Linked DNA regions of Homo sapiens. The protein of the gene in region 4 interacts with the protein of the main gene of each other region in a biochemical or structural test. Each region holds a gene or a part of one and is shown on either strand. Other genes may lie near its edges.

Evidence for each region.
Region 1: the proteins of PTGES3 (region 4) and HSP90AB1 form a complex in vitro, tested with the Homo sapiens proteins (3 studies listed by BioGRID and IntAct, with this or other methods).
Region 2: the proteins of PTGES3 (region 4) and HSP90AA1 form a complex in vitro, tested with the Homo sapiens proteins (10 studies listed by BioGRID).
Region 3: the proteins of PTGES3 (region 4) and TERT form a complex in vitro, tested with the Homo sapiens proteins (2 studies listed by BioGRID).

The regions. Positions count from the first base shown.
Region 1 is NC_000006.12:44,242,589-44,250,108, forward strand, and holds the start of HSP90AB1 (heat shock protein HSP 90-beta), read left to right. Parts: upstream 1-4,512; 5' UTR 4,513-4,607; intron 4,608-5,354; exon of another isoform or gene 5,355-5,491; intron 5,492-6,028; exon of another isoform or gene 6,029-6,041; coding exon 6,042-6,188; intron 6,189-6,788; coding exon 6,789-6,995; intron 6,996-7,086; coding exon 7,087-7,246; intron 7,247-7,432; coding exon 7,433-7,520. UniProt on the Homo sapiens protein: Molecular chaperone that promotes the maturation, structural maintenance and proper regulation of specific target proteins involved for instance in cell cycle control and signal transduction. Undergoes a functional cycle linked to its ATPase activity.
Region 2 is NC_000014.9:102,084,031-102,091,764, reverse strand, and holds the start of HSP90AA1 (heat shock protein HSP 90-alpha), read left to right. Parts: upstream 1-4,720; 5' UTR 4,721-4,779; intron 4,780-5,386; coding exon 5,387-5,548; intron 5,549-5,640; coding exon 5,641-6,007; intron 6,008-6,333; coding exon 6,334-6,467; intron 6,468-6,766; coding exon 6,767-7,084; intron 7,085-7,200; coding exon 7,201-7,366; intron 7,367-7,734. UniProt on the Homo sapiens protein: Molecular chaperone that promotes the maturation, structural maintenance and proper regulation of specific target proteins involved for instance in cell cycle control and signal transduction.
Region 3 is NC_000005.10:1,292,054-1,299,552, forward strand, and holds the start of TERT (telomerase reverse transcriptase), read right to left. Parts: upstream 3,016-7,499; 5' UTR 2,937-3,015; coding exon 2,718-2,936; intron 2,614-2,717; coding exon 1,260-2,613; intron 1-1,259. UniProt on the Homo sapiens protein: Telomerase is a ribonucleoprotein enzyme essential for the replication of chromosome termini in most eukaryotes. Active in progenitor and cancer cells. Inactive, or very low activity, in normal somatic cells.
Region 4 is NC_000012.12:56,678,269-56,685,286, reverse strand, and holds part of PTGES3 (prostaglandin E synthase 3), read left to right. Parts: intron 1-7,018. UniProt on the Homo sapiens protein: Cytosolic prostaglandin synthase that catalyzes the oxidoreduction of prostaglandin endoperoxide H2 (PGH2) to prostaglandin E2 (PGE2).

The DNA.
Region 1 (7,520 bases), on a different chromosome or scaffold from region 4:
TATTGGAGGGTGTCAGTTCAGGGTATTCCCTCAGGAATTCAGAGAGCTAAGGCTCGTGGAACTGGGAAGGCCCAGAAAGTAACGGGACACACCTGGCAGGCACTGAGCTTAAGAGGCTGCTTGTTCTAGGGGTTCAGGGTCCACAGCTACTCTCCATGCTCATATCTCTGATGTCCTGTTACCCTCAGTTGTTTTATTCGTTCACTGAGCTTTATTTAACTCCCCTCCGTGGCCTCTGTGAACCCTAGAGACTCTGTCCAGGCTGAGTCTCTGTGCTCCCTGCAAGACTTTGCTGAGCTTTATGTAGCTTAGGGGTCTGCAAACGTTTTCTGTAAAAGGCAAGAGAGTAAATGTCTTAGGGTTTGCAAGCGTTATGGTCTCTGTCACACCTATCGATTTTGACTTTATGTTACAGAAGCAGTCAAAGACAAGGGCTACGTTTCAACAAAACTTCATTAAAATTGGCCAGGCGCAGTGGCTCACGACTGTAATCTCAGCACTTTGGGAGTCTGAGGCGGGCAGATCACCTGAAGTCAGGAGTTCGAAACCAGCCTGGCCGACATGGTGAAACCCGGTCTCTACCAAAAATACAAAAATTAGCCGGGCGTGGTGGCGGGCGCCTGTAATCCCAGCTACCTGGGATGCTCAGGCAGGAAAATCGCTTGAACCCGGGAAGTGGAGGTCGCAGTATGCTGAGATTCTGCCATTGCACCCCAGCCTGGGAGACGAGTGAGACTCCGTCTAAAAAAAAAAAAAAAAAACTTCATGAAAACAGAAATTCAAATTTCATATAATTTTCCCATGTCAAAATAATATCTTTCTTTTGATTTTTTTTTCAACCATTATGAAGTGTAAAAACCCTTCTTAGCCCACAGGCCATTCAAAAAACAAGCAGCAGGCCCACCAGCTGCAGACCTTGGGTTGTTAATCCCTGCTTTAGCTGGCCACCCTCCGACAGCAGAAGGTTGGGCTGGGCCTAGGAGGTTTCATGGAGGAATAAAAGGGATCTGGGGAACATCAGTGGTTCCAAGGCTGGGAATAAGGCTTCGGACGGTGTAGTTTTTTTTTGTTTTGTTTTTGTTTTCTGAGACGGAATCTTGCTCTTATTGCCCAGGCTGGAGTGCAATAGCGCGATCATGGCTCACCGCAACCTCCACCTCCTGGGTTCAAGCGATTCTCCTGCCTCAGCCTCCTGAGTAGCTGGAATTACAGGCATGTGCCACCACACCCAGCTAATTTTGTATTTTTAGTAGAGACGGGGTTTCTCCATGTTGGTCAGGCTGGTCTCAAAACTCCTGACCTCAGGTGATCCGCCCGCCTTGGCCTCCCAAAGGTCTGGGATTACAGGCGTGAGCCACCCGTGCCCAGTCTGGAAGACATAGTTTTAAGCCTGTCTTTTATAACCTTCACTTCTCTCACTCTTAAGATCAGGACTTCTTACCAGTGGCATTTGCAGCCCTCTGCGACCTAACCCCCATCTGCAGGGCTACTTTCAACTCCTTGTGCTTCCCTTTGGGGTTCCTGAGCTATGGTTCCTCTAATGGGGCTCTGTTCCTTTCCATGCTTTCCATGTCATGGCCTGGCTAGGCATGGTCCTAAGACTGCTCCCTTTCCCAAGCTGAGCTGAGGGCCTCTGCGGCTTCTCCCATCCTCCTATGGTTCACACTTGGCTGCTGCAGCCTCCAGTGGGTTAAGGGCTCCCAGTCCTGTGTATGCATCTCTGCATCCCCAGGATCTCCACACAGTGGAGGCTTAGTGAGTGTCAATGAGTGGAAAACGATGGAGCTTGTGGACACAGGTAGGCGGTCTCCTGAAAGGCTTCCTGGAAGAGAAAGTGGAATTTCTTTTTTTTTTTTCTTTTTTGAGACAGAGTCTCACTGTGTCGCTCAGGCTGGAGTGCAGTGGCGTGATCTCGGCTCACGGCAACCTCTGCCGCCCGGGTTCAAGTGATTCTCCTGCTTCAGCCTCCCAAGTAGCGGGGACTATAGGCGCGCTACCACGCCCGGCTAATTTTTGTATTTTTAGTAGAGACAAGGTTTCACCAGAGTGGCCAGGCTGGTCTTGAACTCCTGACCTGGTGATCCGCTGGACTCGGCCTCCCAAAGTGCTGGAATTACAGGCATGAGCCACCGCGCCCAGCCCCCTTTTTTTTTTTTTTTTTTTTTTGAGACGGAGTTTCTCTTTTGTTGCCCAGGCTGGAGTGCAATGGCATGGTCTCAGCTCACTGCAGCCTCTGCCTCCAGAGTTCAAGCAATCTTCCTGCCTCAGCCTCCCAAGTAGCTGGGATTACAGGCATGTGCCACCACGCCCAGCTAATTTTTAGTAGAGACGAGGTTTTTCACCATGTTGGCCAGGCTGGTTGTGAACTACTGACCTCGGGTGATCCACCCACCTCGGCCTTCCAAAGTGCTGGGATTACAGGTATGAGCCACTGTGCCCAGCAGAGAAAGTGGAATTTCTATGCTGGTGTAACATTTGAGATTTTCCCATTTAGAAAGTCTTCAGGAAGCCGTCGAGTCTTGACACAGAAAGGATCCAGCTCAGGGGAAGCCCATCCACAGGAGTGATTCCTGCTTTGGATTTAGGTCCTAGGGGTGAGATCACATCCCTGCTCCATTTCTGGAGCAGAAAGGGAGCTAGTGCAGCAAGGACTCTGAGTAGACGGGCCTTGGGAGTCACTGAAGCCACTTCCCTGTTGACAGAATGTGCACACTGACTTTCATCCGCTCACAGGAGAGTGAGAGTTTGTGAATGCTCTCTGTGAACTGGGGAGCAGATTTTTAATGAGCTCTGCTTAGAAGGAGAGGACACGTTAAGGGATCACGCTCCCACTGGTTTGCGGTTTTGGTCAGGAATAGAGCACCCAACGCCCCTTCTTATAGACTTCTCCCAGCCATAGGCTTTTTGCAGACCATAATGAAAGGGAGAAAGGATATCCAATCGGGATGGTGATGGCAGGCATGGCGAAGTGGACAGGGACAAAGAAGAGGAAAGCAAGGGACACCCTTTGTTCTTTGGTATTCAACACATGAACAAAACTTGTTAACGAATCGTAGACTGGGTAACAACAGGGCTGGTGAGGGAGGACGATGTGGGTGGCTGTGGGGAAACTCTTCCCAAGCATCCCAGGGGTGGGCCAGGAAGGGGAGCAGATGGACATCTACAGGGCACAGAGCAGGGAGTGGCTATTCTCTCCTGGAGGGGTTGTGGGTCCAGCAGGCTTTCGGATGAGGCCTTGGAAAGGCAAGGACAGCTTGCCAACTGGAGGGCAGGCAAAACGGCTGAGCCAGGCCAGACACGGCAGCTCACTGGCCAGGGGCATGGCCTAGGGGCTCTGGTGCCAAGGCTGAAGGGGAACAACTTGGCCAGCCGCTCTGTGGCCGGCATCGTCACGCGGCCTCCAAGAGCTCCGGCTGCCCTGCACTGGTTCCCAGAGACTCCCTCCTTCCCAGGTCCAAATGGCTGCAGGAGCGAAGTGGGCGGAAAAAAAGCGAACCAGCTTGAGAAAGGGCTTGACGTGCCTGCGTAGGGAGGGCGCATGTCCCCGTGCTCCGTGTACGTGGCGGCCGCAGGGGCTAGAGGGGGGTCCCCCCCGCAGGTACTCCACTCTCAGTCTGCAAAAGTGTACGCCCGCAGAGCCGCCCCAGGTGCCTGGGTGTTGTGTGATTGACGCGGGGAAGGAGGGGTCAGCCGATCCCTCCCCAACCCTCCATCCCATCCCTGAGGATTGGGCTGGTACCCGCGTCTCTCGGACAGGTCAGAGCGGGTCGCCGGGTGGGGTCGCTGCAAAAACCCTGCCCCGGCCGCAGCCGGAGAGGCGGAGCCTCGCGGGGAGGGGGCGGGACCGCCGAGACAGGCCTGGAAACTGCTGGAAATGCCGCAGTGCCGCCGCCGCGCCTTCCGCCGCATGTCGGCAAAGAGTCCCCGCCAGCCCCGGCCGGCGCCCTCCCCCTACGCTGAGCTGCCCCTCAGCGCGAACCCTCCGCCCTTCCTCTACTCCTGCGAGAGTCGGGATCTGGGGCTACCCAAGGTTGGGTCCCGAATGCCAGTCCCTCTGTCGGGACGCGAGATGTGTAGGGCAGATGCTAGGAAGAAGATTGGGTCTGGGAGCGGTGGTCCGCGTGGTTAGCTGCCTCCGCTCTTTTTCGGTGTCCCCCCCAGTCCCGCCCTTGGGTGTGGGGACGCCTGCCCCACAAGTGTTTAGGGAGGTCAGTGGGTTCCTCGCCCGTAGAGACACCGTTTATGCCAAATGAGCACTCCTCATCCCCGCTCTTGATGGAGTCATGTCCTAGACGTGAAACTATGGGGCTGTGATCACAAGCAAATGTGTGGGCGGATCCGTTGCTTGGGTTCTTCCCCGCCCCCTCTTTTTTTCGGACCATGACGTCAAGGTGGGCTGGTGGCGGCAGGTGCGGGGTTGACAATCATACTCCTTTAAGGCGGAGGGATCTACAGGAGGGCGGCTGTACTGTGCTTCGCCTTATATAGGGCGACTTGGGGCACGCAGTAGCTCTCTCGAGTCACTCCGGCGCAGTGTTGGGACTGTCTGGGTATCGGAAAGCAAGCCTACGTTGCTCACTATTACGTATAATCCTTTTCTTTTCAAGGTAAGGCTGAGATCTCCGCTAGGCTTCTTTCCCTTTAGTGCTGTATTCGTGTTGTTTTTGTTTTTTTCTGTCCTTTAGGGAGCCTTAGTCTAGATGTCGGGGTGGCTTGTGGATAACGCTCTGGATTTTTATAGGGTGAGGGTAGTGGTGGGTGAGGTTTTTTGAGTCCTCCTCGGTTTTCTCTAGTGTGTTTGGGGGGTGGGGCTTTCTCTCGGCGCCTGCTGGCCGTAGCGAGGTGGGCTGTGGGGTTGGGGCAGTGGGCGGCTGGCAGCTGCACGTGGTGGCCGCGCGGCCCGGGACGCTGCCATTTTTGCCCCTCCACTTCCGGACGCGGCTACGGGGCGTCGGAGGGGGACCGCAGGGTGGCGGGGGTGCCCGCTCGGGTGACTCAGCACGGCCTTGTGGGACTGGCTTTGTCACCTCTCTTATCGGACGCGTTGTTAAAGCCTTCTTGGGTGCTTTGTTTCTGTGAGGGAGGGTTGACGGTGTGGGAAGAGAGCTTTCGGTCTCCAGCACCCGATACTCCCTCCTTCCAGATCTTTCTTGCAGTCCCGGTGGAGGAGGGGCGGGGAGGGGAGCAGGTTCTGGAAGATTCATGGGCTCCTTCCTCCGCCCTTCCTCGAGAGCTGAGATTGTTCTGGAAGCTTCTGGATTCTGGCGCCCCGCCCCAGTGCCCGGATGCTGGGGCGAGGGAGGGTGCACTGCGGCGCCCCCTCCTCGCGTGGTCCTGGCCGACGCATGTCCGGCAGTGACGAGTGTCGGCCTGGTGGCTACGGCCACCATCTTTCTTGGGTTTGGTCCTGTTCTGTAATTTTGTGCTGTGAAAGGGTCGTGGTGGAGCTTTTGGCTTAAGAATTCTTTGTCCGGATTTAATTGCTCCTCCGGTGGGTATCGTATGGATCCCAGGTTATTCCTCCCTGCCCTATGGGGCAGGAGTGTCCCGCCCTTGGACTGGTCTTAGGAACTGACACCTCAGGGGGAGCAGTTTAAAGTTAGTGCCATTTTTATCTTAAACTAGTCACTTTGATCTCCCCCAAATAAAGAACTGTAGGTAGTGATTTTCACATTTAAATTTGTGTAAGGATTACTTGGGATCTCTAGATACCTGGGTTGGACCAACATTATGATTTTTCTGCCATACTACCAGATGATGCTGAGGCTGCTGGTCACCATTCTTTAAGTAGGTGGGTTCTGTGACATTTGGTTGAAGAATATTTAGCTTATTTTCTTTTTCCTTCTGAATTTTCAGGCCTCCCACTTAGTGTGTAGTCTGAGATCTTTAAGAGAATGCATTTTTAGTCTTGGGAAGGGATAGTACTCCGGTTAAACCAGTCTGAACTCACTGTCTAAGGTCCTAACAAATGATATGACCTTTAGGATTTTTAAACATGGGGCCTTAGTGTTCTTTTGTAATTAATGAGATTTTTATTTTAGATGCCTGAGGAAGTGCACCATGGAGAGGAGGAGGTGGAGACTTTTGCCTTTCAGGCAGAAATTGCCCAACTCATGTCCCTCATCATCAATACCTTCTATTCCAACAAGGAGATTTTCCTTCGGGAGTTGATCTCTAATGCTTCTGATGTAGGTGCTCTGGTTTCCACATTTGGCATGGTTTTTTTTTTTGATACTCTAGAAGGAGGGGAAAGGAGTGGTTTGGCCTTTGTTGGGGACTACTATTGAAGGGGGTAAACTTGCAGCTATTCCAAAAAGATGGGTTTTACTCTGGCCATCTTGAACTTGGAAGGGACTATGTCCAGAATAAGTGGGCTCATGGAACTAACTGGTTCTAAAGCCTCAAGATAGGGGGCAATCAGATTTGAGGCTGAGAGAGGTAAACCAAGATTTTCTTTGAAGATACGGGCTTTAAGAAAGCAAAAGTGGCTGAGCGTGTTGGCTCACACCTGTAATGCCAAGGCAGGAGGATCACTTGAGCCTAGGATTTCGAGGGCAGCCTGGGCAACCGCGAGACCTTGTCTCTGCAAAAAATTAAATATTAGTTGGGCACGGTGGCATGTGCCTGTAGTCCCAGCTACTTGGGAAGCTGGGGTTGGGAGGATGGCTCGAACCTGGGAGGTCAAGGCTGCAGTGAGCTGTCATCCTTGCCACTGCACTGTAGCTTGGGCAACAGAGCAAGAGTCTGTCTTGGAAAGAGCAAAAGTAAGTTGCTGTTTGTATTTCCAGGCCTTGGACAAGATTCGCTATGAGAGCCTGACAGACCCTTCGAAGTTGGACAGTGGTAAAGAGCTGAAAATTGACATCATCCCCAACCCTCAGGAACGTACCCTGACTTTGGTAGACACAGGCATTGGCATGACCAAAGCTGATCTCATAAATAATTTGGGAACCATTGCCAAGTCTGGTACTAAAGCATTCATGGAGGCTCTTCAGGTATTGCAGTTCTGTAGGCATTCATACTTATCTGTGTTCTTTGGTTTTTTGCTTCTTTAAAACTTGTGATTGACTTTAAACTTGTTGGCAGGCTGGTGCAGACATCTCCATGATTGGGCAGTTTGGTGTTGGCTTTTATTCTGCCTACTTGGTGGCAGAGAAAGTGGTTGTGATCACAAAGCACAACGATGATGAACAGTATGCTTGGGAGTCTTCTGCTGGAGGTTCCTTCACTGTGCGTGCTGACCATGGTAAGTTAGCTTTTCTGTTACAAGGTAGTTGGGTTAGGATTTTCTGGGCTCACACCAGTAGCAGAAATTTTGGGCATCCTGTCTGTAAAGCAGTTCTTCACAGCAGTTCTGCTGATACTTACTAATTGCTGGTCTCAACTGCATATACTTTTTACCCTGTTACACGCTTGTAATTGACTCTTCTAGGTGAGCCCATTGGCAGGGGTACCAAAGTGATCCTCCATCTTAAAGAAGATCAGACAGAGTACCTAGAAGAGAGGCGGGTCAAAGAAGT
Region 2 (7,734 bases), on a different chromosome or scaffold from region 4:
GTCCCAGCTCCTCAGGAGGCTGAGGCAGAAGGATCACTTGCGCCCAGGAGGCTGATGGTGTAGTGAACCATGTTTGTGCCACTGTGCTCCAGCCTGGGCAAGAGAGTGAGACTGTCTCTTTTTTTGTTTGTTTGTTTTTTTGAGACAGTCTCACTCTGTTGCCCAGGTTGGAGTGCAGTGGTGCAATCTCGGCTCACTGCAGCCTCTGCCTCCTGAGTTCAAGCAATTGTCCTGCCTCAGCCTCCCGAGTAGCTGGGACTACAGGTGTGTGCTGCCACACCCAGCTAAATTTTTTTGTATTTTTTGTAGAGATGGGGTTTCACCATGTTGTCCAGGCTGGTCACAAACTTCTGACCTCAATTGATTGGTCTGCCTCAGCCTCCCAAAGTGCTGGGATTACAGGTGTGAGCCATTGCACCCAGCTGAGACTGTTTATCAGGATAAAACAAAAATCATGAGCCAGACCTGGGTGTAACTGCCCTGGAGGCCCTTGCTCTGGGTGACCCTGAGTAAAGGACTTACCTCTCCTAAGCCTCAGTGTTCTCAACTGTACAGTGGGACCAAAGACACCTACTTCAGAGTCGAGAGGACTAAGAAACTGCATGCAAAGTAGCTAGCCTGCTGCCTGGCAAGCAAGTGAGGGGGCATAAATTGCTATGGGGTAGGCTATCACCTGAGCCATCTCCAAAACCAGAAGTGGCTCATTTAAGCTTCATAACCACTCTATGAAGAAGACATGTTCATGTCTATGCTACAGATACTGAACTGGATGCATAGAAAGGGTAAGTGACTTGCCCTGGGTCACACAGGCAGTGGCTGAGCTAAGATCTGAATCCAGGCCACCTGGATCCAGAATCCATGCTCCAGCTTTACTGAGGGACACTGAAAGCTTTCAAATAGAGGAGGAAAATGGTCAGATTGCCCTAACAGCAACATCACTGTGGGACGAGGTCAACAAATATTTAGGATGCTAAATCTGCAAGGCTTGGTGATCTATTAGAAATACGTTGTTGAGGCCAGGCACTGTGGCTCACGCCTCTAATCCCAGCACTTTGGGAGGCCAAGGCGGGCGGATCACAAGGTCAAGAGATCAAGACCATCCTGGCTAACACGGTGAAACCCCCTCTCTACTTAAAGAATACAAAAAATTAGCCAGGTGTGGTGGCGGGCGCCTGTAGTCCCAGCTACTAGGGAGGCTGAAGTAGGAGAATGGCGTGAACCCGGGAGGCGGAGCTTGTAACAAGCCAAGATCGCACCACTGCACTCCAGCCTGGGCGACAGAGCAAGACTCCGTCTCAAAAAAAAAAAAAGAAATATGTTGTTGAGGAAGGAAGAGGAGGAGGCTGGACAGAAAAGGCGGTGAAGCAGGAGTGGAAGAACTTGGGGTTGGAGGGCTAGAGGAAGCAGAGGAGCACATGTGGTCTGTACTCTGAAGGAGAGGGCACCACATTCTGAGAACCTCTCCATGACAGGACACCTGGCCTGGTGGGAGGCAGGTGGGGTTCCTAAGAAAATGTGTGAGCAGAAGATCCATTAAAAATTAATTAGAGAAGAACAGAGGGAATGGTGTTCCAGGCAGAGGGAACAGCATTTGCACAGCCTCGTGGGGGCGAGTCATGGGGAGTGCGCCAGACACAGAAATAGGAGCACAGTGGGAACTGGCGCTGTATGGGGAGGCAGCAGCGACCTGCAGGGCCTCACAGGCCTAAAGAGCTCTGTCTTCCTCCTAGAAGGATGGGAAGTCAGCTAGAATTTGCAGAGGGTGGGGAGGAGGGAATAGATAGGGCCAGGTCTGTGTTCTCAAAGCTCACCCTGGCTACAGTTTGGAGACAGACCAGACCATATGCAGGGAGCAGTTAGGTGGTTATGGAGGCCTTCCAGGTGAGCTGACGGTTGTGTGGAAGCGGGGGATGAAGGTGGAGGGAAGTGGCTGGGTTCAAGAGGTACTTAGGAGGCAGAAGTGGCAGGACTCAGTGCCAGATCCGTTGTGGGGATGCTTGGGGTTCTTTAAGGTGGGATAGTCAGTGACCTGGCTAACGAGCCCTCAAAGAGGGCTGGAGACAGGGGGGAAGCTCATGAGGCTCAGCATCCAGGTCTGGAGCTGAGTCCTGGCCGGGCTCTTCCGTGAGTCATCTGCACACAAGTTCTATTAGTGAGAGTGCTGGACAAGATTTCCTGGGGGCAAAGACCCACCTCCAAGAGCTCCGTGATGTGCCAGGGAGAGGGGCATGAGTCTGAGAAGAGAGAAGGAACAGCCAGGGGCTGGCGTGTTGATGGTAGAAACCATTACAGAGTTCGCACCTGGTGGGTAACTGTGGAATGTCACCTGGAGACAGGACAAAAATGTCCTGTTTATTAACCGAGGGGGGAGAGCTGGAAAGACAAGAAGTTGTGGAAGGAAGAAGGGACATTAAAGATGGGGCCTGACGGGAAACAGTGGTTCCCAGTGATGCCCAGACCCAGGGAGGGGCTTTGGAGCAGGTTCACTGGAGAAATGGGGGTAAATGAAGGTCCCCAAAACAAAGGACAAAGAATGTCAGAGCTGGCCGGGCGCCGTGGCTCACGCCTGTAATCCCAGCACTTTGGGAGGCCGAGGCGGGCGGATCACCTGAGGTCACGGGTTCGAGACCAGCCTGGCCAACATGGTGAAACCCCGTCTCTACTAAAAATACAAAAATTAGCCGGGCGTAGTGGTGGGTGCCTGTAATCCCAGCTACTCGGGAGGCTAAGGCAGGAGAATCGCTTGAACCCAGGAGGTAGAGGTTGCAGTGAGCAGGTTGCAGTGAGCAGAGATTGTGCCATTGCCCTCGAGCCTGGGGGACCAAGAGTGAGACTTTGTCTAAAAAAAAAAAAAAAAGAAAAGAAAAAAAAGAACGTCAGAGTTAGGGCCCTGGATGGCTCCTCTATATCTCAAACCCCCTGGGCAATGGCAGAAACTGCGGTAGGAAAAGTTCCTACAAGTGAGGAGAGCGGGGACAGTGGCTGGTGGTGACAGGAAGGAAACAGGCAAAGGCGGCAGTCGCCAGGGAAGACCTTGCGCCCCTTCAGCGACCCGCTCACCGCTCTTCCTGCTTCCGGATTCCTCCCCGCCAGTCCAGGCTGCAGCTGTAGGAAAGCCTGGGCCGGGGGCGCGCCCCCAGGCTGCGCAACAGCTACCACAGGACCAGGCACACACCCGGTCACCACCGCTGGGGCCCGCGCCACGTGGCTGCTAGTTTCCTTCCACTTCCCCCGCTTTGTAATGCCAGGCAAGACGCTTTATGTTGATTTCACACGCTCTTAAGGGGGTCCCAGGCCGCAGTCTGAAAACCCCTGCTCCTGAGCAAGTTGCGTTTCCCTAAAGACCAGGAAGCGGAGGTAGTTCCATCGTTTCTTTACACGGCAAGGAGCTTTCAGATTATTCCGAGGGCCTGGCTATGAGTCTAGGCAGGAGGCGGCCCAATCATGGGAGGCGCCAGAGACAAAGAGGAAGAGGACATGGACTAGGCAGGGAAGCCAGGTCGAAGGAACCCCAATGCCTCCAAGGTTCCCACAGCTGGCCTTGGCCAAAATATCCGAAAATTCCCATGTAGAAACTGGCTTTTCCAGCCTGGGCAACATGGTGAAACCCCGACTCTACAAATAAATACAAAAACTAGACAGGTGTGGTGTCCGCGCCTGTGGTCCTCTGCCCACGCTCGTCCCAGCTACTGGGAAAGCTGAGGCGGGAGGATCACCTGAGCCCGGGAGGGTCGAGGCTGCAGTGAGCCGAGATTCCGCCGCGGCACCCCAGCCTGGGCGACAAAGCGAGAGCCTGTCCAAAAAAAAAAAAAAGAAAAAAAAAAAAAAAAAAACCTTTTAGGGCAAGTTAATCACCAAAGTGTTAGATACTTAATTTGGAGACCGCAAATCGGTCGGCAAAACGATGGGCTTTTCAAAATCATGCCGGGTGTAGCTGGGTAAGCATGAATTTGTTCACCAAGTCCCCGATTCCCAAGCTAAGGGACCCTTAAGTATGAAGCACATGGCTTTCGGGGAACCCAAAAGTAGGGAGCGCTCCCGAGCCAGCGGTGGGTCTGGAGAATCCCCGAGCGCGCAGGCCGCGGGACAGCCTCCCCAGTGCGCAGCAGCCTGAGGCTAACAGCCCCCAGAGGGCAGAGCCCCGCGATCCCGGCGCCGCTTGCGGCTGGATTCTTTGGCAGCGGGCGCGGCGCCAGTCAGGACGACGGCTCCGGAAGTCTCCCGGGCGCGTGAGACCCGGGCCGCTCTCCGTCCACGCACGACCCTCCCTCCAGGCGCGCCTCCCACCCCGGCCCCGCGTTCCGCTCAGCCCGGGTGACCAACTACACCTCACTTCAAAGGCCCCCACGCCCGGGCGTGCCCTCCGCCCGCCCGCGGCAGGTGGGGGTGCAGGGCGGAGGGCGCGGGCGGCCCCAGAAGGCGCCCGGACCTTCCCGAGAATTCCGGGCCGCGCAGGCGCATTGAGGCCGGCGCGGGGGCGTGCGAGAGGCGCGCGGCGGCGATTGAGGGAAGGTTGCCCGGGCCGGGCCACGAGCAGGGCCTGCGCGCGCCCGCAGGAAGGCGCGGGGGCGGGGTGCCGCGGCAACGGCGCATGCGTAGGCGCGCGGCCGCGGCGGCGGCTGGGGAGGGTTCTTCCGGAAGGTTCGGGAGGCTTCTGGAAAAAGCGCCGCGCGCTGGGCGGGCCCGTCGCTATATAAGGCAGGCGCGGGGGTGGCGCGTCAGTTGCTTCAGCGTCCCGGTGTGGCTGTGCCGTTGGTCCTGTGCGGTCACTTAGCCAAGGTGACGGGTGGTTGTGGGGGCCTGTGGAGGTGGACTGGGGACCGGGACTGGGGGCGGCTGGCGCGGGGCGGAGGCTGTGGGGGCCGGACCAGATCCCTGAAGCAGCCAGGGCCGCGCTCCCGGGCGGCCGCGCTTTCTATTCCGGAGGCCTCGGGACCGCTGCGGTTTCCGCACCCCGCTTCAGGAATGGGCCGGGCGGCCGCGGGCTCCCCGAGGCTCTGCAGCAGCGCCAGAGCTGGCGCCGCACGCGAACAGAGCGGCCCCGCCGCGGGGGTCCCCCGCCCGGCCCCGCTGGGGGCGCAGGCGGAGGAGGCCGCCGTGGCGGAGCCGCAGCCCGCGCGGGAGGGCACCCGGGGTGTTCGTTGGGGACCGCGGCGGGGGACTGGGCCCGGGCCTGCGGCGGCCTCCCGGAAGCGCGCACACGCTCGTGGTAGTTGCCGCGCTCCGAAATGAGGTCATCCTTTGTCAGCCGCCCTTCTATTTTCGGTTTACTTAAACTTCGCAAATCTCCAATTCGGCTTTAAAAATATTTGGAGAACGCGATGGAATTTCGTGTTGCCTCTGTAGACGTCCTGCAAGGTTTTAAACCGGCGCGGTGTCGTTCCAGATGCCTGAGGAAACCCAGACCCAAGACCAACCGATGGAGGAGGAGGAGGTTGAGACGTTCGCCTTTCAGGCAGAAATTGCCCAGTTGATGTCATTGATCATCAATACTTTCTACTCGAACAAAGAGATCTTTCTGAGAGAGCTCATTTCAAATTCATCAGATGTAAGTCACTTATTAACCCAGAATCGGATTTTGGTTTCAGTGTGAACTTCTTGGGGGTGCTGTATGCTTAAATTAATATTTTTTGTTAACAGGCATTGGACAAAATCCGGTATGAAAGCTTGACAGATCCCAGTAAATTAGACTCTGGGAAAGAGCTGCATATTAACCTTATACCGAACAAACAAGATCGAACTCTCACTATTGTGGATACTGGAATTGGAATGACCAAGGCTGACTTGATCAATAACCTTGGTACTATCGCCAAGTCTGGGACCAAAGCGTTCATGGAAGCTTTGCAGGCTGGTGCAGATATCTCTATGATTGGCCAGTTCGGTGTTGGTTTTTATTCTGCTTATTTGGTTGCTGAGAAAGTAACTGTGATCACCAAACATAACGATGATGAGCAGTACGCTTGGGAGTCCTCAGCAGGGGGATCATTCACAGTGAGGACAGACACAGGTAGGCACCTGAACATTCACTGGTTAAGTGAGCGGTGGAAGGGTGGGGTGCTGCAACCCTTGGACCCCTGGGGATGCGGTGAAGCTTACAGAATTTGTGTTTGCCCAACGATCAGGAACAAGCTAGAGCACTTAATTAGTGTAATGGCATGACTTGGTGGGCGGTTCTTTTGGGCGAGGCACCTTGCCCAAAAGGTTCTGCTGTGGTGGCCTTTGCATCTGTAGTAACGGCAAACCTTGCTTTATAGACACGTTATAAGGGTGTTAGGCATGGCGTTGAGCACTAAATTGAATGTATTAAGTCAATTTTTCTTTCTTCTCTTGCAGGTGAACCTATGGGTCGTGGAACAAAAGTTATCCTACACCTGAAAGAAGACCAAACTGAGTACTTGGAGGAACGAAGAATAAAGGAGATTGTGAAGAAACATTCTCAGTTTATTGGATATCCCATTACTCTTTTTGTAAGTTTTTATGTAATTGCAGAGTGAATTTCTGTCTGTAGGTGATTGGGGTGACTGTACTACATCCTTAGTCCCTAGATCTGTTCAACTAGTCTGAAGCCTGGGGAACCTAAGCTCTACTACCTAACTCTGTAAAAGTTCCTCGGGCTATTAAGTGGATGTATCAAATATTGATGAAAAGCTGGGTGCTTCTCAAGTTGGCTAATTTAGACTTGGGCCTTAGGTTGAAAATAGTGGTGCAGCGCTGTCGCTTAGTTCTGGAGTGCAGCAGTGATGTGATTTCGTGTTTTCTTTTGAAGGTGGAGAAGGAACGTGATAAAGAAGTAAGCGATGATGAGGCTGAAGAAAAGGAAGACAAAGAAGAAGAAAAAGAAAAAGAAGAGAAAGAGTCGGAAGACAAACCTGAAATTGAAGATGTTGGTTCTGATGAGGAAGAAGAAAAGAAGGATGGTGACAAGAAGAAGAAGAAGAAGATTAAGGAAAAGTACATCGATCAAGAAGAGCTCAACAAAACAAAGCCCATCTGGACCAGAAATCCCGACGATATTACTAATGAGGAGTACGGAGAATTCTATAAGAGCTTGACCAATGACTGGGAAGATCACTTGGCAGTGAAGGTGAGTGACTGATGGGTGCTTCAAGCTTGTCCTTAGATTATCATCTTTCTCCACCACCCCAAATATCTTCTATAATGCATTGTTCATTGGTACTTAGTGTATCTGTTTTATTACAGCATTTTTCAGTTGAAGGACAGTTGGAATTCAGAGCCCTTCTATTTGTCCCACGACGTGCTCCTTTTGATCTGTTTGAAAACAGAAAGAAAAAGAACAACATCAAATTGTATGTACGCAGAGTTTTCATCATGGATAACTGTGAGGAGCTAATCCCTGAATATCTGAGTAAGTATAGATAGGAAAAATAATCACTGTCACTGATTAAAGAAGTACTTTCTGGGTGGGCATGGTGGCTCACACCTATAATCCTAGCACTTTGGGAGGCCGGGGTGGGCAGATCACTTGAGGTCAGGAGTTCAAGACCAGCCTGGGCAACATGGTGAAACCCCATCTCTACTAAATTACAAAAATTAGCCCCATGTAGTGGCAGGCTGAGGCATGAAAACAGCTTGAACCCCCCCGGGAGGCAGAGGTTGCAGTGAGTGGAGATTGCGCCACTGCCCTCCAGCCTGGGCAACAGAGTGAGACTGTCTCAAAAATACGTCCCATCATCTTCAGGTTATCTTTGATTTTGGGAGTTTACATAGTACCAG
Region 3 (7,499 bases), on a different chromosome or scaffold from region 4:
TTCTGCACTGTACACAGAAAACGGTGTTAGGAGTGCCAATCTCATGTTATATGACTTTTGCCACCATAAAAAGAAAAAAAGAAAAAAAAGAGCCCCAAGAAGGTCACCCTCCTTGTCTGCATGGCCGGAAGTCTTACATGTCTTGGGAGTTTGTGGGGAGGGGGTGAAATCGGGACTTCTTCTAGCTGCCACGGTAGGGCCTGGGAGCACTGGGAGCCAAAAGGGGGCTGGAGCGGAGGTTCCTCAACATCAAATCCAGAAAAACAGGGTGGGGACACGGCAGGGCCCAGCAGCACCATCCCCTGAACACCCACAAACACTGTCCCTTCCTCAGCAGGTGGAGCCATCTGCTGTCCTCTGCTCCCATGTGGCCCTCTTCATACCTAAAGATGGGACCAGGATCTGTGCTGGAGAACAGTCTTATCTCCCTCCCTCTACCCTGTCCTGGCACAATCAACGAACACTTTTTTTTTTTAAAGACAGAGTTTCACTCTTGTCGCCCAGGCTGGAGTACAATGGCACAATCTCAGCTCACTGCAGCCTCCGCCTCCTGGGTTCAAGTGATTCTCCTGCCTCAGCCTCCCAAGTAGCTGGGATTACAGGCACACACCACCATGCCCAGCTAATTTTTGTATTTTTAGTACAGATAGGGTTTCACCATGTTGGTCAGGCTGGTCTCAAACTCCTGACCTCAGGTGATCCACCTGCCTCAGCTTCCCAAAGTGCTGGGATTACCGGCGTGAGCCACCGCACCTGGCCGTCAACACACAATTAAATCTTAAACACAAACCTGCATATTGGCTGACCACGTGCACCTGCAAAACCCTTACCTCCCACCCCCAGGAAGAGGGGGTTCTCGTCCCCACCTCTCATTCCCACCCTTGAAATTGCGAAGAGGATTATAGGTAACCTGCAGGCACCCTCGCCAGAGCGTCTGTGCTTCCAGACACTTCTCCCCATTGCCGGCAACCCGGCTCCACTGCCGCGCCCAGCCTCCTCTGTTCACTGCTCTGGCCTCGGCGCCTGGAAACCGCGTGTCCATCAAAACGTGAAGGTGAACCTCGTAAGTTTATGCAAACTGGACAGGAGGGAGAGCAGAGGCAGAGATCACCGTGTCCACTCGACGTCCTGAGCGAAAAGCCACGTGTGCCCACGTGACGATGGAGACAGGAGGACCAGGGCTCTGCCTGCCCCCTTTTCTGAGCCCCTACTGCATTCAGCTCTGGGGCCTGGGCCCTCGACGGCCACCACCTCCTCACCTGGGCTCCTGCGCAGCCAAGCGCAGTCCCGCACGCTCATCTTCCACGTCAGCTCCTGCAGCGAGAGCTTGGCATGCTTCCCCAGGGAGATGAACTTCTTGGTGTTCCTGAGGAAGCGGCGTTCGTTGTGCCTGGAGCCCCAGAGGCCTGGGGGCACCAGCCGGCGCAGGCAGGCCCGCACGAAGCCGTACACCTGCCAGGGGCTGCTGTGCTGGCGGAGCAGCTGCACCAGGCGACGGGGGTCTGTGTCCTCCTCCTCGGGGGCCGCCACAGAGCCCTGGGGCTTCTCCCGGGCACAGACACCGGCTGCTGGGGTGACCGCAGCTCGCAGCGGGCAGTGCGTCTTGAGGAGCACCCCGTAGGGGCACTGCGCGTGGTTCCCAAGCAGCTCCAGAAACAGGGGCCGCATTTGCCAGTAGCGCTGGGGCAGGCGGGGCAACCTGCGGGGAGTCCCTGGCATCCAGGGCCTGGAACCCAGAAAGATGGTCTCCACGAGCCTCCGAGCGCCAGTCAGGCTGGGCCTCAGAGAGCTGAGTAGGAAGGAGGGCCGCAGCTGCTCCTTGTCGCCTGAGGAGTAGAGGAAGTGCTTGGTCTCGGCGTACACCGGGGGACAAGGCGTGTCCCAGGGACGTGGTGGCCGCGATGTGGATGGGGGGCCCGCGTGGTGCTGGCGGCCCACGGATGGGTGGGAGTGGCGCGTGCCAGAGAGCGCACCCTCCAAAGAGGTGGCTTCTTCGGCGGGTCTGGCAGGTGACACCACACAGAAACCACGGTCACTCGGTCCACGCGTCCTGCCCGGGTGGGCCCAGGACCCCTGCCCAACGGGCGTCCGCTCCGGCTCAGGGGCAGCGCCACGCCTGGGCCTCTTGGGCAACGGCAGACTTCGGCTGGCACTGCCCCCGCGCCTCCTCGCACCCGGGGCTGGCAGGCCCAGGGGGACCCCGGCCTCCCTGACGCTATGGTTCCAGGCCCGTTCGCATCCCAGACGCCTTCGGGGTCCACTAGCGTGTGGCGGGGGCCGGGCCTGAGTGGCAGCGCCGAGCTGGTACAGCGGCGGCCCGCACACCTGGTAGGCGCAGCTGGGAGCCACCAGCACAAAGAGCGCGCAGCGTGCCAGCAGGTGAACCAGCACGTCGTCGCCCACGCGGCGCAGCAGCAGCCCCCACGCCCCGCTCCCCCGCAGTGCGTCGGTCACCGTGTTGGGCAGGTAGCTGCGCACGCTGGTGGTGAAGGCCTCGGGGGGGCCCCCGCGGGCCCCGTCCAGCAGCGCGAAGCCGAAGGCCAGCACGTTCTTCGCGCCGCGCTCGCACAGCCTCTGCAGCACTCGGGCCACCAGCTCCTTCAGGCAGGACACCTGCGGGGGAAGCGCCCTGAGTCGCCTGCGCTGCTCTCCGCATGTCGCTGGTTCCCCCCGGCCGCCCTCAACCCCAGCCGGACGCCGACCCCGGGGAGGCCCACCTGGCGGAAGGAGGGGGCGGCGGGGGGCGGCCGTGCGTCCCAGGGCACGCACACCAGGCACTGGGCCACCAGCGCGCGGAAAGCCGCCGGGTCCCCGCGCTGCACCAGCCGCCAGCCCTGGGGCCCCAGGCGCCGCACGAACGTGGCCAGCGGCAGCACCTCGCGGTAGTGGCTGCGCAGCAGGGAGCGCACGGCTCGGCAGCGGGGAGCGCGCGGCATCGCGGGGGTGGCCGGGGCCAGGGCTTCCCACGTGCGCAGCAGGACGCAGCGCTGCCTGAAACTCGCGCCGCGAGGAGAGGGCGGGGCCGCGGAAAGGAAGGGGAGGGGCTGGGAGGGCCCGGAGGGGGCTGGGCCGGGGACCCGGGAGGGGTCGGGACGGGGCGGGGTCCGCGCGGAGGAGGCGGAGCTGGAAGGTGAAGGGGCAGGACGGGTGCCCGGGTCCCCAGTCCCTCCGCCACGTGGGAAGCGCGGTCCTGGGCGTCTGTGCCCGCGAATCCACTGGGAGCCCGGCCTGGCCCCGACAGCGCAGCTGCTCCGGGCGGACCCGGGGGTCTGGGCCGCGCTTCCCCGCCCGCGCGCCGCTCGCGCTCCCAGGGTGCAGGGACGCCAGCGAGGGCCCCAGCGGAGAGAGGTCGAATCGGCCTAGGCTGTGGGGTAACCCGAGGGAGGGGCCATGATGTGGAGGCCCTGGGAACAGGTGCGTGCGGCGACCCTTTGGCCGCTGGCCTGATCCGGAGACCCAGGGCTGCCTCCAGGTCCGGACGCGGGGCGTCGGGCTCCGGGCACCACGAATGCCGGACGTGAAGGGGAGGACGGAGGCGCGTAGACGCGGCTGGGGACGAACCCGAGGACGCATTGCTCCCTGGACGGGCACGCGGGACCTCCCGGAGTGCCTCCCTGCAACACTTCCCCGCGACTTGGGCTCCTTGACACAGGCCCGTCATTTCTCTTTGCAGGTTCTCAGGCGGCGAGGGGTCCCCACCATGAGCAAACCACCCCAAATCTGTTAATCACCCACCGGGGCGGTCCCGTCGAGAAAGGGTGGGAAATGGAGCCAGGCGCTCCTGCTGGCCGCGCACCGGGCGCCTCACACCAGCCACAACGGCCTTGACCCTGGGCCCCGGCACTCTGTCTGGCAGATGAGGCCAACATCTGGTCACATCCCGCCCGCACAGGGTGGAGGGCAACCTCGGGGTCCAGGCACCTGGCTCCAAGCCTCGGACTGCAGAGCTAGGAGGCCCGACTTCCAGCCCAGCAGTAGAAGCCACACGGCCACTGGTCCCCTCCAGACCTGGGGCCCCGGCACAACCGCAGGACAGCTGAGGACTTCCCAGGAATCCAGACTCCGGGTTGCTCAAGTTTGGATCTAAGGGGCGAGAAACTTCTGGGTCTCCCGAGGCCTTGCAGGGATGCTGTAGCTGAGGTCGGCAAACACTGAAATGCTAACAAACGCAACCTTAAATGTAACCTTTCCTACTTTCAGAAACTGCCGGAGGAAATTGCTTTATTTATGGAGCTAGCATTTGAACAGGCCTCGCACCCTCCCTGGGCTGTCACGCTCGCTGGAGGTTAGCCTCGTCTTGTAAATACTTAGGATTACAGGTCGCTCTTCTAGAAATCCCCTTAGTGATCCCTAAGCCTTTTTAAAGGGCTGTGTTTGTGAATTGTCTCTGCCACTAGGGCAAAGGGGCGGTTTGGAAAATTTGTTCCAACAAAAGTTAAGTTGTAGCTTACACTGGTTCTCTGCAGAGAAGCCAACATAGAAAACACAATTTTAAAAGAGGGAAGAGAAGAAATGGAAGCAGAAGATTATGCTGGAGTAATTAACACCATGTGCATGGCGAGGAAACGCCTCCCGGCATTCAATGAAGATCGCTGATACCCAGAAGACACCCCAGTATTATGGGTGCAGTTAGTGTGTCTTTGAAAAGCTGATGATGTCTTAGTCATCACAGTGTAAAACATCAAGAGTGTTCTAACAACAATAAAAAAATTCTATCATTGGCTTAAAACACCACAACACTTGAGTGGGGTGAGCTTCCTACCTCAGACCCAGATGTTTCTAAACAGAGTAAATTCTGAGCTGGGCATGGTGGCTCACACCTGTAATCCCAGCACTTTAGGAGGCAGAGGCAGGTGGATCATCTGAGGTCAGAAGTTCGAGACCAGCCTGGCCAACATGGTGAACCCCACCCCCACCCCCGTCTCTACTAAAAATACAAAAAATTAGCTGGGCATGGTGGCGGGTGCCTGTAATCCCAGCCAAATGGGAGGCGGAAGCAGGAGAATCACTTGAACCTGGGAGGCAGAGGCTGCAGTAAGCCAAGATCGCGCCATTGCACTCCCTCCAGCCTGAGCAACAAGAGTGAAACTGCCTCTCAAAACAAAACAAACAAACCAACAAATGAAACAGTGGATTCAGTACCAGCAGTGAAAAATAACAAAGTATCATTCCTTCCTCCACAGGAGTGAGAGGAACTCCTCTGCCCCTGGGGGGGGATAGGGAAGGGGCTCAATCCCAGTAGAGTAGGAGGGATGGACTTTAATTTCTACATGTTTCAGCACACACTGAGACATTGAGATTCAGGACAGTGTCCACACTCGCGCCCTGATTCTACATCAGGTTTCTACTGGCAGATGGCAACCCCACTGGGACCTGAAGCCTGCAGCCTCCCAGCTGCCCCTGCAGTGGGTCCCATGGGATAACAGGTGGTCACAGAAACTGTGAATATGTCAAGAGACGGTGTATCCCCAGTCTACGAAGAATTACAGAAAATATCAAAGGAGGGTAACTCCTGAGTAAAGGGGAAATTGAACTCCATGAACTCCTTACCAGTGGGTGTGACTTGAGCCCAGGGAAGTTTTAAAATGGTTAAATAGGCCAGGTGCAGTGGCTCATGCCTGTAATCCCAGCACTTTGGGAGGCTGAGGTGGGCGGATCACCTGAGGTCAGGATTTTGAGATCAGCCTGACCAACATGGTGAAAGCCCATCTCTACTAAAAATACAAAATTAGCCGGGTGTGGTGGTGCATGCCTGAAATCCCAGCTACTTGGGAGGCTGAGGCACGAGAATTGCTTGAACCCAGGAGACGGAGGTTGCAGTGAGCCAAGATCATGCCGCTGCACTCCAGCCTGGGCAACAAGAGCATAACTCTGTCTCAGAAAGTAAGTAAATAAAATAAAATAGCTAAATAAAATCACTCGTGCCTGCCCTGCCCTTGCCCGGAGGCACTTCAGCCCTGTCCTTGGATGTTTCTGTAAACCTTTGTTTTGAAATAATCCTAGATTCACAGTGCATGGGTTTCCTGTTGCTTCTGCAAATCCCCACACACTTCATGCTAGAAGGGCAGCGCGAGTGCCCTCCTATGGCACGGAGGCCGGAGGTCCACGATGGGCCCTGGTGGGCTAAGGGCCAGCCGTGCCTTCCTGCTGCAGGCTCCGTGGAGGGTCCCTTCCCCGCTTTTTCCAGCTTCTGGAGGCGCTTGCAGGCCTGGGCTCGAGGCCCTCCCTCCCTTTTCAGCCTCAGACTGACTGCCTCCATCGTCCTGAGGCTGCCCCCCTCTGACCCTCCTGCCCGCCTCTTCCCAGAACCCCTGGATTACTTTTCGGGCCTGCAGGTAGTCCCGAAGGATCCCAGACCTCAGGGTCCTCACGGAGATCACACCTGCAAAGGCCCTGGGGCCGGGCGGGTTCTGTCCACAGGTTTGGGGGAATCAGGACGTGGGCATCTCTAGAGCATTATCCTGCCCAGGACACTCGGGCATGGCAAAGATGGCACAGCCTCCGGGTTCCCCCATCCCCACTCCCCTATGGTTAGTCTCCCATAACTGAGCCAATACCATCAGAACCAGGAAACTGGCTTTAGTAAAAGGTGCGTGCAGTAGCCCCCAGCTGCCGCCCCCACCGTCCTTAACCCCCCTAACCACTCCCCTGCCATGGGGTGAAATTCTTTCTTTTTGAGCATGTTGCGTACGTATCCCATGGAGGTGGCAGTTTTGACTCAGCGTAATTCCCTTGAGATGCCTGCAGGCTTTATAAACGGCATGTTCCTCTTCACTGTGAGGAACTGTCCACCGTGCGGATGGACCCGTTTGTTTAACCAGTTTGTTAAAGGACATTTTAGCAGGGATTTCCCTGCTTTGTAGCTATTAAAATAAAACAGCGGGGGTCGGTCGTGGACGGGAGTGTGTACATGATGTGCGTAGTCACGTGAATTCCCAGGGCTGTGGGGCAAATGTCCAGGGGTGCCAATGCTGGGTCTTTTGGGAAGAGGATGCTTAGTGCTTGTGGAAACTGCCACTCTGTGTTCCAGAGGGAGGGGGGCAGAAAAGTGCTGGGCAGAGAAGGGCGGGTCCCTGGCGGGGGCTCCATCCCCAGGCCTGTGCCCGTGGACCTAGGTGAGGACAGGCACTCCTACTTTCACACCCAAATGTTGCATTTCCCAAGAGCGCCCTGGCCCACCACGCCCCCGTCCTATGCCTATAAAAACCCCCAGACCCTAGCGGGCAGAGACACACGCAGCTGGACGTGGAAAGGAGCACAGAAACAGAAGAACACACCGGCAGGCCCCGGCAGATGACAGGAGACGGGGAGCGCCTGGAAATGGAGGTCAGCGTGCAGCCGGACGCCAGGAACCTGCATCGGGGGCCACGAGCCAGGTTCAGGCTCAGAGGAGCCAGTCTGGGAGGCGCAGAATCTCCTCCCTTCAACGCATGTGAGTGTTGGGGAAGGAGACAGACACCCCATGTGAGGAGGAACCGTGCGAGCTACGTCGCTGAGAC
Region 4 (7,018 bases):
TATATGCCGTTTAGTAAATTCTTCAGGGACTCTTAACAAGCTAAAGACTTAAATTTTAAAATGAAAGTTGTAAGTCAGTTATTTGAAGTGGAAGAAGCCTTTAATGGGTCGTCATCCAGTCTTAAGAATCTGGCTGATAAGGGTTTATTTTGTTGATAACTTGTTTTAAAAGTGTTTTTTTTGGAGACAGGGTCTTCCTCTGTCACCCAGGCTGGAGTGCAGCTGCAACCTCTACCTCCCGGGCTCAAGCGATCCTCCTTGCCTCAGTCTCCCGAGTAGCTGGGACTGCAGGCAAGCACCACCATGCCTGGCTAATAAATTTTTTTTAAGCTCTGGGGAGAGAGAGATTTATGCTGGGTGTCTTAAAGGCTTGGGAGTGTGTTTTCTCATTTGATTTACTCATTTGCTCTTCAGCGATTTCGTAGTTACATTTCTTTAAATCCTAAGTTATAAAAGTTTGTCTCATAATTTACATAAAAGCTCTTAATTTCGGACCTATCTTGGAGAAGGCTGGGATTTTTAGGACCTTCCCCCACTTAAGATTTTCCGCTTAACTAACCTTGCCAGAGGGTGCTACTTCGCATTTTCTTTTTGAATCATTGTCGTTCGACCGATTAAAAATAGAGAAAAAGTAAAATGTTTTATTTATTTTAGAGATGTTGGAAGTTGTTGTTTTTCCTGTCTAATGTCTTGTATATAATTAGGAAGTTGTCCAGAAACTTGCGTCTCTGATTTTGGTAAAAATCTTCCTGTCATTCAGCTGTGTAGGAACGAATCTCCAAAATAAAATTGTCCATCTTTAGCCTGCAAAACAAATTGTCGTAGTGAACATATGCTATATTGTTAATTGCTATAACTTGAGTATCTGATGGTGGGTGGCCTTTGTTCAGTATTGATTTCCTGTGCACTGTAACCTGGCAACTGGATTTTTAATTTTTCTTCCTGTGTTCAGTTAGACTTTAACTAGAAGGCAGTAGAAACTGGAAGTGAAAAATTTCTTGAGTGCAAGCCAGTGTTTTATTGCTAAATTAAGATTCTCCTGACTAATTGGATTTTCTCGGTTTAAAAATCTACAAGCTATCATTTTTGGGTCTTGTGGTTAGCGATTGTCTCTTTTCAGGGGAAAAAAAACCTTTGTAAATATCAACTGTTCAGAACCAATCTCGCTGTTAAACACCTAAGATCATATTTACGTGAGCTCAAAAAATACTCTAGTGAGCATATTTTGCTATGGAAATAGTGTATTGAACTTTTTACTATTTACTGTGTGGATCGGCAATTACAGTTTTGGGGTTTTTTTTGTTTGTTTTTTTTGTTTTTTTTTTTTTTGAGACGGAGTTTCGCTGTCGCCCAGGCTGGAGTGCAGTGGCGCGATCTCGGCTCACTGCAGGCTCCGCCCCCTGGGGTTCACGCCATTCTCTTGCCTCAGCCTCCCGAGTAGCTGGGACTACAGGCACCCGCCACCTCGCCCGGCTAATTTTTTGTATTTTTAGTAGAGACGGGGTTTCACCGTGTTAGCCAGAATGGTCTCGATCTCCTGATCTCGTGATCCGCCTGCCTCGGCCTCCCAAAGTGCTGGGATTACAGGCGTGAGCCACCGCGCCCGGCCCATAGTTTTGGTTTTTGTTTGTTTTTTTGAGATGGAGTCTGGCTCTGTCGCCCAGGCTGGAGTGAACTGGTGCGATCTCGGCTCACTGCAACCTCCGCCTTCTGGGTTGAAGTAGTTCTCTGCCTCAGCTTCCTGAGTAGCTGGGATTCCAGGTGCCTGCCGCCATGCCTGGCTAATTTTTTTTTTTTTTTTTTTTTTTTTTTTGAGACAGAGTTTCTCTCTTGTTGCCCAGGCTGAAGTGCAATGTCACGGTCTCGGCTCACCGCAACCTCCGCCTCCTGTGTTCAAGCAATTCTCCTGCCTCAGCCTCCCGGGTAGCTGCGATCACAGGCATGCGCCACCATGCCCGGCTAATTAGTAGAGATGGGGTTTCTCCATGTTGGTCAGGCTGGTCTCAAACTCCCGACTTCAGGTGATCACCCGCCTCGGCCTCAGAAAGTGCTGGGATTACAGGTGTGAGCCACTGCATCTGGCCTAATTTTATATATTTTTAGTAGCGATGGGGTTTCACCATCTTGGCCAGGCTGGTCTTGAACTCCTGACCTCATGATCCACGCGCCTCAGACTCCTAGAGTGCTGGGATTACAGGCGTGAGCTACTGCCGCAGCCGGCAATGATAGATTCTAGAATGAGGCTGCTTCCCTGCTTCCTCGGTATACCTTTGTAAATTTTTTTTTTTTTCTTGAGGCGGAGTCTCATTCTGTTGCCCAGACTGCAGTGCAGTGGCGCGATCTTGGCTCACTGCAACCTCTGCCTCCTAGGTTCAAGCGATTCTCCTCTCTCAGACTCCCAAGTAGCTGGGACTACAGGCATGTGCCGCTATGCCCAGCTAATTTTTTGTATTTTAGTAGAAATGGGGTTTCGCCGTTTTGCTCAGGCAATCATCCCACCTTGGCCTTCCAAAGTGCTAGGATTACAGGTGTGAGCCACCACGCCCGGCCTTTTTTTTTTTTTTTCTTTTAAATGGAGACGGGATCTTACCGTGTTGTCCAGGTTGGTCTTGAACTCCTGGGCTCAAGTGATCTTCCTCCCAAAGTCCTGGGTTTACAGGTGTGAGCTGCTGCACCCGATCCTTGGTATACCTTTGAACTTGCGGTTTTCCGGGAATATTTCTTCTTTTCTGAGACACTGTCTCACTACTTTGCCCAGGCTGGAGTGCAGTGGTGTCATCACTGTCTGCAGCCTCAAACTTGGGATCAAGCCATCCTCCTGCCTTGGTCCCCCAGTAGTTGGGACTACAGGTGTGCACCACCACACCCAGCTAACTTAATTTTTTTTAGAGACGGGGGTCTCACAATGTTGCTAAGGCTTATCTTGTCTCAAACTCTTGGGCTCAAGCAGTCTTCCCTCCTCAGCCTCCCAGAGTGCTGGAATTGGAGCCACTTGCTCATTGATATTTTAACTTCACCTTCAGCATATGCTCTTTTCCCATTTTGTATTCTGAAGCTGAATAAAATGTGCTGTTGGGGCTTTTCTGTGCCTCAGGTGCTCATTCACATGAAGCCACACTTCATTTGATAGTGCCAATGTCAGCTGGGCACGGTGGCTCACACATGTAATCCCAGCACTTTTGGAGGCCAAGGCGGGCAGGTCACTTGTGGTCAGGAGTTCCAGACTAGCCTGGCCAACATGGTGAAACCCTGTCTCTACTAAAAATACAAAAATTAGCTGGGCACCGTGGCGGGTGCCTGTAATCCCAGCTACTTGGGAGGCTGAGGCAGGAGAATGGTTTGAACCCAGGAGGCGAGGAGGTTGCAGTGAGCCGAGAATGCGCCACTGCTGCACTCCAGCCTGGGTTACAGAGTGAGACTCTTTTTTTTTGAGATGGAGTCTTGCTCTGTCGCCCAGGCTGGAGTGCAATGGTGTGATTTCGGCTCACTGCAAGCTCTGCCTCCTGGGTGTTCAAGCGATTCTCCTGCCTCAGCCCCCTGAGTACCTGGGATTACAGGCGCATGCCACCGTACCTGGCTAATTTTTGTATTTTTTTTTTTAAGTAGAGATGGGGTTTCGCCATGTTGGTCAGGCTGGTCTCAAATTCCTGACCTCAGGAGATCTGCCGCCTTGGCCTCCCAAAGTGCTGGGATTACAGGCATGAGCCACTGCACCCGGCTGATTCTTTTTTTTTTTTTTTTTTTTTTTTGAGATGGAGTCTCACTCTGTTGCCCAGGCTGGAGTGCAGTGGCGTGATCTTTGCTCACTGCAGGCTCCGCCTCCCGGGTTCACGCCATTCTCCTGCCTCAGCCTCCCGAGTAGCTGGGACTACAGGCTCCCGCCACCTCATCCGGCTAATTTTTTGTATTTTTAGTAGAGACGGGGTTTCACTCTGTTAGCCAGGAAGGTCTGGATCTCCTGACCTCGTGATCCGCCCTCCTCGGCCTCCCAAAGTGTTGGGATTACAGGCATGAGCCACCGCGCCCGGCCTGATTCTTAAAATACCCATTTACACAGCACTAATTTGAGAATCATAAAGGGGCTGTCCGAAATAGGATTGGGGCTGTCTGAAATAGGATTGGGGTTCACGAGATCAAGCCATTGCATTCCAGTCTGGACAACAAGAGCAAAAACTCTGTCCAAACAAAAAAACAAAACACAACTACAAATGGGGGGACCAGGTATGGTGACTCACACCTGTAATCCCAGCACTTTGGGAGGCCGGGGTGGATGCATCACCTGAGTTCAGAAGTTTGAGACCAGCCTGGGCAACAAGGTAAGACCCCATCTCTACAAAAAATAACCTGGGTGTGTGGTAGCATGTATCTGTGGTTCCATCCACCATGGAGACTGAGGTGGGAGGATCACCTGAGCCTGCGAAGTCAAGGCTGTGTGAGCTGAGATCACGCCACAGCACTCCAGCCTGAATGACAAAGCAAGAACTGGTCTCAAAAAAAAAAAAAAACTTTTAAAAAACAAAAACTACAAGTGGGTGGAGGGTGCCCTACACTTATCCTGAATCAGGAATAAACACATATGTATTCCCTCATTTGAAAGGAGAACTGGGCCAGGTGTGGTGGCTCACGCCTGTTAATCCCAGCACTTTGGGAGGCTGAAGCTGGAGGATCACCTGAGGTCAGGAGTTGGAGACCAGCCTGACCAGCGTGGTGAAACCCCATCTCTACTTAAAAAAAATTGCTAGGCCTGACGGCACATGCCTGTAACCCCAGCTACTTGGGAGGCTGAGGCAGGATAGTCGCTTGAACCTGGGAAGCAGGGGTTGCAGAGAGGCAAGATGACGCCGTTGCAGTCCAATCAGGGCAGCAAGAGTGAAACTCTGTCCCCCCAAAAAAAAAAAAAGAAAGAAAATTGGGTTGGGTGCAGTGACTCACACCTATAATCCCACCACTTTGGGGGACTGAGGTGGGCAGATCACTTGAGGCCGAGTTCGAGACCAGCCTGGCCAATATTGCAAAACCTCATCTCTACTAAAAATGTGAAAACATTAGCTAGGTGTGGTGACGCATGCCTGTAGTTCCATCTACTCATTGTGAGGCTGAGGCAGGAGGATCACCTGAACCCCGGAAGTGAAGATTGCAGTGAGCTGTGATCGCGCCATTGCACTCCAGCCTGGGCGACAGCAAGACTTTCTCAAAAAAAAAAAAAAACCAAAACCAATAAAACAAAAATGGAAAACCAGCGTTTATGAAATCTCCTTTTGCCTTCCATGAGGATTACACCATCTCTTTTTCTCCTATTAACATATGGAGAGGGCTGGGTGCGGTGGCTCATGCCTGTAATCCTAGCACTTTGGGAAGCCAAGGCAGGTGGATCACTTGAGGTCAGGAGTTAAAGATCAGCCTTGCCAACATGATGACACCTCGTCTCTACTAAAAATACAAAAATTAGCCGGGCATGGTGGCAGGCACCTGTAATCCCAGCTACTCGGGAGGCTAAGGCAGAAGAATTGCTTCAACCTGGGAGGTGGAGGTTGCGGTGAGCCAAGATCATGCCACCGTTCTCCAGCCTGTCACTCCGGGGTGACAGAGTGAGACTCCGTCTAAAAAAACAAACCCAAAACATATGGAGAGGGGGCTGAGTTTAGCTTTAACTTTAGCTTCTAAACTAATTATACTGGATTTATCTCTAGCCTTTCTGCTAACACTGGCTAAACTCATAACCATTGTGTAAGACTGTTAATTCATTTTAATAGTAATATCCCTATAGATTCAAAACTTTCCACCTCTGCATACATTATGTAAATAATCTACTTAAAGCAAAACAACAATAAACCCCACAGGCGGACATTCCATGCTTTTTTTTTTTTTTTTTTTTTTTGAGGCAGAGTCTCACTCTGTTGCCCAGGCTGGGGTGCAGCAGGGGCACATCTCAGCTCACTGTAGCCTCCGCCTCCTGGGTTCAACCGATTCTCATGTCTCAGCCTCCCAAGTAGCTGGGATTACAGGTATGCTACCATGCCCAACTAATTTTTGTATCTTCAGTAGAGACAGGGTTTTGCCATGTTGGCATGGTTGGTTTGAACTCCTGGCCTCCAGTAATCTGCCAGCCTTGGGCTCCCAAAGTGCTGATATTAGATGTGAGCCATCACTCCTGGTCTCCATGCTTCTCTAAGTCAGGGTCTTGCTATGTGGCCCAGGCTGGAGTGCAGTGGTACAACCATGCTCACTATAACCTCAAACTCCTTGTCTCAAGCAATTCTCCCACCTCAGTGCCCCCCAGTTAGCTAGGACTACAAGCATGTGTCACCATGGCCAGCGATTTTTTTCTTTTTGGCAGAGATGTGGTCTCGCAGTGTTGCCCAGGCTGGTCTTGAACTCCTGGCCCAAAATGATACTCTCACCTTGGCCTCCTAAAGTGCTAGGATTCCAGGCATGAGGCACAGTGCCCAGCCTATTCCATGCTGATGTGACAAGCATTTCTAAGCTCAATAGAAGGGCTATATATACCAATCCAAGCAATTACATTTTGCATAACCTAAAATCCTCTATAGTCCTATCTAAAAGGTCTCTTTGTTAGCCTTGAAAGGACAGAGACCGTATTTGTTCCTAAATACCATAATTTTAATATGTTAGTATCTGGTGAGTTATAACTCTAATTTATAAAACACTGCAAGCACCCTTCACTATAAAAAATTGATGCACCAAAGAAGCTAGATGGAAACAGTTTGCTAGGAAAAGTGTCCCAGTTATTTTAATCCATTTGATAGTTTTACTATGTGCAATGCACATTTTATTATAAAAGACAAAACAGGCTGGGTATGGTGGCTCACTCCTGTAATTCCAGCACTTTGGGAGGCTGAGGCGGGTGGCTCACCTGAGGTCAGGAGTTCGAGACCAGCCTGGCCAACATGGTGAAAACCTGCCTCTACTAAAAAACAAAAATTAGCCAGGCTTGGTGGCGGGCGCCTGTAATCCCAGCTACTCAAGGGACTGAGGAAGGAGAACTGCTTGAACCCAG